Regions from separate parts of the Homo sapiens genome. Here all the other regions are linked to region 1. The links come from fine-mapping of genetic effects on gene expression. A gene starts in region 1. Each other region holds a variant in brackets. All regions are shown on one strand. Distances are from middle to middle. Region 1 holds the start of C2CD3 (C2 domain containing 3 centriole elongation regulator). Region 2 has its middle 44 kb from the start of POLD3. Region 3 overlaps C2CD3 (C2 domain containing 3 centriole elongation regulator).

The links.
Region 2: its variant is fine-mapped to the expression of C2CD3 in lung (GTEx, PIP 0.93).
Region 3: its variant is fine-mapped to the expression of C2CD3 in whole blood (TOPMed, PIP above 0.99).

Annotation. Positions count from the first base shown.
Region 1 is chr11:74,169,346-74,172,110 of GRCh38, reverse strand. C2CD3 (C2 domain containing 3 centriole elongation regulator) reads left to right here and starts at 1,109. Exons shown (of 33, transcript NM_001286577.2): 1 at 1,109-1,373. The coding sequence starts at 1,319. PPME1 (protein phosphatase methylesterase 1) reads right to left here and starts at 822. Exons shown (of 14, transcript NM_016147.3): 1 at 589-822. The coding sequence starts at 689. RefSeq lists enhancers at 28-950, 728-1,177, 951-1,874.
Region 2 is chr11:74,546,855-74,549,619 of GRCh38, reverse strand. No RefSeq gene overlaps it. Among named protein-coding and RNA genes, the nearest start is that of POLD3, 44 kb to the left of the region's middle. The variant C/A (reference allele first, on the strand shown) is at 1,692.
Region 3 is chr11:74,044,577-74,047,341 of GRCh38, reverse strand. The region is part of intron 28 of C2CD3 (C2 domain containing 3 centriole elongation regulator); the gene reads left to right. Among named protein-coding and RNA genes, the nearest start is that of UCP3, 37 kb to the right of the region's middle. The variant G/T (reference allele first, on the strand shown) is at 1,071.

The DNA of each region.
Region 1 (2,765 bases):
TCATTCGCTGAATCTGTCTTTACACCTCTGGGAATTCTCTAGAATCGTCTGCTTCCTAGTTCTCCTCTTTCCTTCTCCAGCCCTGTCTCGAGTGTTTTCTACCCCCCTCAGCTTTTCTAGTATCTAGTTCTCACAGTGCAGATATTAGAACTCTGATAATATCTACTCCTCCCAAACCTTTCCTTAGTTGTTGGCCCAATTCCCCTCAACTTTTCTCTCAGTCATTCCCCACTTCCCTCCACCTTCCCTGGCCGATTCTCCTCCACCTTTGTCACCGTTCTACTCCCTTTTCTAAGCCTCCTTTATTGTGGAAGTGATTCTCAGATCCCTTATGTTAGTCTCTCAGCTTCCCCAACCTTTGCCTCATTCCCCTCTCCCTTCAACAACGTTATTTTTCCTCCAATTTCTATTGACTTGGCGCCTCCCCTAGTACCCCAATCTGCCTTCTACTCCATCTAAATATCTCCAGGCCGCCAACATTTTCTCCTATCAGTAGACTCCTTTCCCGTGCCTCTATGAACGCCCAGAGATACCATTCTCCAACGGCTGGGGCCTGGCCCATAGGGAGAAGGGGTATGGGTCACGTACCCCATTCGCATCTTGGCTCCGCTCTGACTGCCCCCGCTGCCGGGTAGAGGTGGGCGAGAGGGAAGGCGGCCGAGGTGCATGCTCTTTTCGAGGGCCGACATCGAGGGGAGGCTGCACGCACGTAGTCAAACAGTAGGCGAAGCTTCGTCCCACGTTGAGTGTGGCCCAACCGGTCACGACTCGCTCCCCTAACGACGCCCTGTCGCCTTTGGACAGCACCCAGCTACCCGTAGCACCGCCTACCGCCCACCGGCTCCGTAAACTCCACCCACTCGCTTCAGCGCTTCCACCGGAAGTGCGCAACAGCACTCATACAAAGGAAGCTGGGTAACAGAGTATGAGAACTCCGCAGACTCCCGGCTGGGAACCCGACGACTTTCACCGGAAGGAGGAGCGCTCTTCAGGGCAATGCACCCTGCGCAATGGAGTCCACAAAGGGCGCATCCCTATGCGCTTGCGCAGCTGGAGGCGCCCCCCAGCCAACCCCGGAGAGGTATTGTAGCAAAGCGTCCTGGGTATTGTAGTGTATTGGAGGGAAGGCGTCTTGGCGCCTTCTCTTCGCACCGTTTTCCGGAGACTGTTAGAGGAAGAGTCGCTTTTTCCTGCCTCCCAGGCTGCCCAGCGGCGCCGGTTGCCGGGGAACGCAGGCGCCGTGGGGAGGGATGGCGGGAGGATACTGCTTAGGTGCTGGAGACGGAGTTGAGCTGGTGAAGAAGAGCTCGGGCTCATCATGAAACAACGAAAAGGCCAAGGGTCTGGGGGCAGCCGTGGGCGCAAAAAAAGAGGTAACCTGAGCGATCAAAGATTGAGGAAAGCGTAATAGGAGAGCAGGGTGTAAGGAATTTTAGGGAGACCCGCACCCCCGCTGGATAAACAAGAAAAGGGACGTAAGAAGGAAGTAGCCAGGGAACCAGAAGGTTAAAAGGAAGGGCAATTGGCCCTCCAGAGAATAGAAAGGAATTAGGGGCTGGGGTAGGGGCCACAGACAGGCGATTAATGAGATGAAGGTTACCGGTAGGATGACTGTAGAGGAGAAGAACAAACAATGATGGGATTGGTTTTGATAACGAAGTGAAATGTATGTGTGTGTGTAGCTTTCGAGGTCCACAGGGACAGGAAGAAACATAAATTGGCAAAGGGATTATATCATTTGTTGTGTGATTGTGGGCAAGAATCACGTTTTATACATTACTGAATGACCAAGGATTAGTACAAAGCAGGACTCGGTAAATGTTAGTTGAATGAATGAAGTATGAAGGGCTGACTATGAGCAGGAGTTGGGAAAAATAATTGTAGAGTATAGAGCCGGGAAGAGTGGGGAATGACAGGTGTGATAGGATTGGAGTGGGGGTAAGGGCATGACGATCTCCTGAAGGACCTGAGATCATGAAAGAGTGTGCAGCAGAGAGTCCTCATCAGGTTAGCAGCTCAAGGAGACACAAGCTCACCGAGTAGGGGATGTTAGCTGCAGTGAGAACAGTCAACCTAGGAACCCAGGGCAGATCAGGAAACTTGACATTGAATCTCTACAAGACTGCCTCGAAGGGAAAAAGGACAGTGGGTGACCCTGCCTTTTTGCATTGTAGGCAGTTTAGCGAGAAAAGAAGTATTGGGAACAGTGATAGGACATTAGGCCATTGGGTTGAGGACTGAAGCTACAATCTGGGAATTACTCTTATCCAAGCTGTTTAAAGATTACTAAGGCAGTTTTGAGATACTGACTTTCCTGCCAGGAAAGATAGGAGGATCTGAGACTGAAGCATACTAGTGCTCCCTGTGTCAAAACAGTTAAGCATGTTTGGTTGATAATCGGAAAGTCAAAGTAGAAATAATATAACATAGCATAGAACAGAATACACTTTTTGCTATACCATTTCCATATGTAGAAATGTATACACAACTGTGTATAATTTTTATGTTGAAACTATCCATAAGGATTATGGTGGGTCTTTTCTCCACTATAGAGGGCAGAGGCGGTGTTTGCATTAGAAGTCCAAATAATTAGTCCTGATCTGATACATTCCATATATTTTCTTCTTTGAGGCATAACCACTCCTCAAAGAAAAGTCAAAGGAAAAAAAAGGTATAAATAATATAGGAATGGTTTCTTAAATCTCCTTTAAGTTTTCCCGAAAAGGTACTATGAATGAAAGACAATCAGGGTCATTAAAGGAAAA
Region 2 (2,765 bases), 380 kb before region 1:
GTACCAACTTGTTCTGAAATGAAATTGGCTGGGTGCATTATAATGATGTTTATTGGTGCAGGAATAAGATTTTTCAAAGGAAATAAATGAGCTGAGTTCTTTAGAATTCCACATATGCTTCACTTATTTAAAAATGAAAAAAAAAATCTGGCGATTAACAAGGTAATGAAATTTGATAATATTGGACCAAAAAGACAATAACTGTGTTAGAGTCAGTGAAGAAAAACAAAATTCACACTTAGGACTGACCCACCAAGTTGAAATGCTGTGTGAAGTTATTAACTGCTTCCTTAAGTAATGTGTCTAATAGTGCTTGGGGCTAGATTATCAGGCTGAAAGGGTAGATTAATCCACTGCCCCCCACTAGTGCTATGCTCTAGAAATGTCTTTCTCCAAGAGTCCTAGTACCTCTGAGATTCCTTACTTCTTTTTTGAAACGGAGTCTCACTCTGTAGCCCAGGCTGGAGTGCAGTGGTGTGTTCTCAGCTCACTGCAACCTCTGCCTCCAGGGCTCAAGCAATTCCCCTGCCTCAGCCTCCCAAGTAGCTGGGATTACAGGCGCCCCCCCACGGTGCCTGGCTAATTTTTGTATTTTTAGTAAAGACGGTTTTGCCATGTTGGCCAGGCTGGTCTCGAACTCCTGACCTCAGGCCTCCCAAAGTGTTGTGATTACAGGTGTGAGCCACCGCGCCTGGCTGATTTTCCTTACCTCTGCCACTGGCCCTGCCTGAACACTCTTCTCATAACTTGTCTGAATACTTCTCAGCCTACACAGCCTAGCTTAAGCACCAGCATCTAGTGAAGTCTCTGGTGCATGAAATATTAGCATGTGTGAACTATCCTCTCTGCTGAATGGACAGAGCTGATTTTAACAATCTCTGACTATCTGTACCCCACCTCCTATAGCCTGTAATTACAGTCACCCGCAGGAACACCTCTCCATCACCTGGGAAGAATAAACACAATGCCTAGATCAACTGGGAGGGTGTGTGAATGCAGATCAGTCCCAGGAAACATTTGACCAATTGCATTTTCTCTCTCTCTGCCTCTCTTTGGTCTCCCTCCCTCTTCTCCCTAACCATTTTCTTGGTCTCTTTAAACTTCTACCTCCTTGTAGAACTCCCTCATCATGGAAGAGGAAGCACGAGATCTTTGAAAAGCTACACATCATTTGGAGACTCTTGCGTCCTTCAGCTCCTGCAGAATGAAACATCACATGACAAACCAAATCTTCTTTTAAAATATTAACTACTGGTCGGGTGTGGTGGCTCACGCCTGTAATCCCAGCACTTTGGGAGGCTGAGGCGGGCAGATCACCTGAGGTCAGAAGTTCAAGACCAGCCTGGCCAACATAGAGAAACCCCGTCCCTACTAAAAATACAAAAATTAGCCAGGCATGGTGGTGCATACTTGTAATCCCAGCTACTTGGGAGGCTGAGGCATAAGAATCACTTGAACCCAGGAGGCAGAAGTTGCAGTGAGCTGAGATGGCATGACTTCACTCCAGCCTGGGTGAAAGAGTGAAACTCCATTTCGTTTTTTTGTTTTGTTTTGAGACGGAGTCTCGCTCTGTCACCCAGGCTGGAGTGCAGTGGCACCATCTCGGCTCACTGCAAGCGCCGCCTCCCAGGTTCACACCATTCTCCTGCCTCAGCCTTCCGAGTAGCTGGGACTACAGGCACCCGCCACCA[C/A]ACCCGGCTAATTTTTTGCATTTTTAGTAGAGATAGGGTTTCACCGTGTTAACCAGGATGGTCTCAATTTCCTGACCTCCTGATCCACCCACGTTGGCCTCCCAAAGTGCTGGGATTACAGGCGTGAACCACCGCGCCAGGCTGTGAAACTCTATTTCTAAATAAATAAATAAGTAAATACCTACCACCCAAAACACAACTTCTTCATTGTGTCACTGTGCAAACAAAGTCTCTGTCTCCTTACTCCTTTCCAAAGACCACACTTCCTTGTTGAGACAAGAGAGAAAACCCAGATTTGCCCCTGTAGTAGGTTGACTAGTAGCCGCTAAAGATGTTAGATCCCAATCCTTGAAACCTGTAAATGTTATTTTATATGGAAACAGTGTCTTTGCAGGTGTAATTAAGTTAAGGATCTTGCAGTGAGGAGATTATCCTGGGTGGGCCCTAAATGTAATCACACGCATTACATATGACCTTGGCCTGACACCTTAATTTTGGCTGAGTGAAAATGATTTCAGATTTCTGACCAACAGAACCGTGTGAGAATAAATTTCTGGGTTTTTTGTTTGTTTGTTTTTAAAGAGATCAGGTCTTTCTCTGTCACACAGGCTGGAGTGCAGTGGTGCAATAATAGCTCACTGCAGCCTCAAACTCCACGGCTCAAGGGATCCTTCCACCTCAGCCTCTCAAGTAGTTAGGGCTACAGAGGTGCATCACCATGCTCAGGTAATTTTATTTTATTTTATTTATTTATTATTTTTTTTGCAGAGATGAAGGTCTCATTATGTTGTGCAGGCTGGTCTCAAACCCCTGGCCTCAAGCAATTCTCCTGCCTCTGCCTCCCAAAGCTCTGGGATTATGGGCATGAGCCACTGTGGCCCGGCCCATGACTTAACTCTAGTTGTAGTCCTTGTGGTTAGCAACAGAGGTGGGGCAGATCCAGAGGTGTATGGTAAGAACACCTGACAGCAATAACTTAAGCTTACCCTGAGAATGACCCTGTATGGCAAACACACCTGAATGTGTGTTCTGAGCTAGGGAATTGGGAAGTGGCCAAACCACAGACTCGTTTCT
Region 3 (2,765 bases), 120 kb after region 1:
AGTAATTTTAAAAGCTAAAAGGTTAATGGCTTGCCTTTTGTCCACATAAAGATGTCCCTGTTACCACTTCAGAAGGGCCACATCGAAGTGTCATATTATATACAGACAGCCATTTAAGGCTAGGCTATAATTCACTCTCTAACCATCTTAACAGAGATCCAGCTCTTCCTGACCCTGCCCTGCTCAAGGGACAGGGTGGTAAAGTGGGCTGTGAGGTCAGACAGATCTGGAATCCTATCCTGGCTTTACCACTTACTAGTTACATGTGACCTGAGGCTAATTACTTTAGTTTTCTGAGCTTTAGCTTTCTAATTTGTAGGATGAAAATAATATAGTACCTCAAGGGCTGTTACAAAGAGTAAATGAGAATAGAAATAACTCACTTTTATATGGACTTTATATACATTAGCTCACTGGGTTTTCACAGCAGCCTTAAGAGAGAGGTTTTATTACTAATAATACTTGTGAAATGCGTAGAACAGCAGTTTCCAAACTTTCTGGTCTTTGTGCTTTATTTGTAATAACCAAAAACTATAAACAACTCAGGTGTCCATCAACAAAGAGGTGAACAAATAACAAAATTGTCGTATATCCATACAATGAAATATTAATACTACTCAAAAACAAGAAGAAATGCATTACTGATAGACAACAAAATGAATATAAAAATAATTATGCTGAGGAAGAGAAGCTAGACGAAAAAGAGTACATTGGGCCAGCCATGGTGACTCAGGCCTTTAATCTCAGTGCTTTAGGAGGCTGAGATGGGAGGATCGCTTGAGGCCAGGAGTTCAAGATGATCCTGGACAACATAGTGAGACCCCATCTCCACAAAAAAATTAAAAATTTGCCTGCCTGTAGTCCTAGCTACTCAGGAGGTTGAGGCAGGAGGCTCACTTGAGCCCAGGTACTTAAGGGTGCAGTGAGCTATGATCACACCACTGCACTTCAGCCTGAGTGACAGAGTGAGAACCTGTCTCTTAAAATAATAAAAAGTACCTTGTATATGATTCCATTTATATAAAATCCTAGAAAATGCATCCTAACCTATAGTGACAGAAAGCAAATCA[G/T]TGGTTGCCTAGGGACAAGGCAGGGTGGATAAGGAGGAAAGGAGGAAGGAATTGCAAAAGACAAGAAGAAACTTTTGGAGATGGTAGATATATTCATTATTTCATGGTAATGGTTTATTTGGATGTATACATGTGTTAAAATTCATCAAATTGTATTCTTTAAATATGTAAAGTTTATTTTATGTCAGTTACACATTAATAAAGCAGTGGTTCTTAAACATTTTCACTTCAAAACCCTTTTATACTATTAAAAATTAGTGATGACCCAAACGGGTTTATGTGGGTTATATCTATCAATTTTTACCATATTAGAAATTGAAACAGAAACTTTTAAAACATAATAAGCAAAATCAATTGTATTTCTATATACCAACAATGAATAACCAAAAATGAAATTGAGGCTGGGCGTGGTCTCTCATGCCTGTAATTCCAGCACTTTGGGAGACCAAGGTGAGAGGATTGCTTGAGCTCAGGAGTTCGAGACCAGCCTGGGCAACAAAGTGAAACCCTATCTCTACAAAAAATCAAAAAAATTAGCCAGGCATAGTGGTGCATGCCTGCAGTCCCAGCTACTCGGGAGACTGAAGCAGGAGAATTGCTTGAGCCCAGGAGGTCGAGGCTACAGTGAGCCATGTTCATGCCATTGCACTCCAGCCTAGGCAACAGAGTAAGACCCTGTCTGCCAAAAAAAAAAGGAAAGAAAAAAGAAAATTGAAAAAGGTCTAAATAAAATCAAAGACATCCCATATCTATGGATTAACAGACTTAATATTTTTACGATGGCAATATTCTCCACGTTGATCTACAGATTCAACACAATCCCTATCAAAATTCCTGCTGGCTTTGTGGAAATGGACAAGCTGATCTTAAAATTAGTATGGAAATTCAAGGCACATGGAATAGGCAAAACAACCTTGAAAAAGAACAGAGTCCCTAATTCCAAAGCTTACTACAATGCTACTGTAAGCAAAACAGTACTGGAATGAGGATAGAAATATAAATCAGTGGAATTGAATTGATAATCTCAAAATAAACCCATGTGTCTGTGGTCAACTAATTTTCAACAAGGATGCCAAGACTAATGAGGAAAGACTAGTCTTTTCTATAAATGGTGCTGGAACAACTAGGTATCCACATGCAAGTGATTGAAGTTGGACCCCTTCCTCAAACCATACACAAAAATTAACTTCAAATGGGTCACATATCTAAATGTAAAAACTAAAACTATAAAACTCTTCCTAGGAAGCAGAGGAGTAAATCTTCATGAGCTTGGATTAGACAATGATTCCTTAGGAAATGACACCAAAAGCACAAATAACAAAAGAAAAAAATTAGATTCATCAAAATTAAAAACTCTCACAGCCATTAAAAAAAAAAAAGAACAAAATCATGTTCTTTGCAGCAACGTGGATGCAGCTGGAGGCCATTATCCTAAGCGAATTAACACAAGAACAGAAAACCAAATACCACATGTTCTCTCTTATAAGTGGCAGCTAAGCATTGGGTATTCATAGACATAAAAAAGTCAACAAAAGAAACTAGGGACTACTAAAGGAAGGAGAAAGGGAGGAGGACAAAAGTTGAAAAACTGACTGTTAGGTAATATGCTTAGTACCTGGGTGATGGGATCATTCAAACCCCAAACCTCAGCATCCTGCACATACACCCTCAGATCTAAAATACAAATTGAAATTA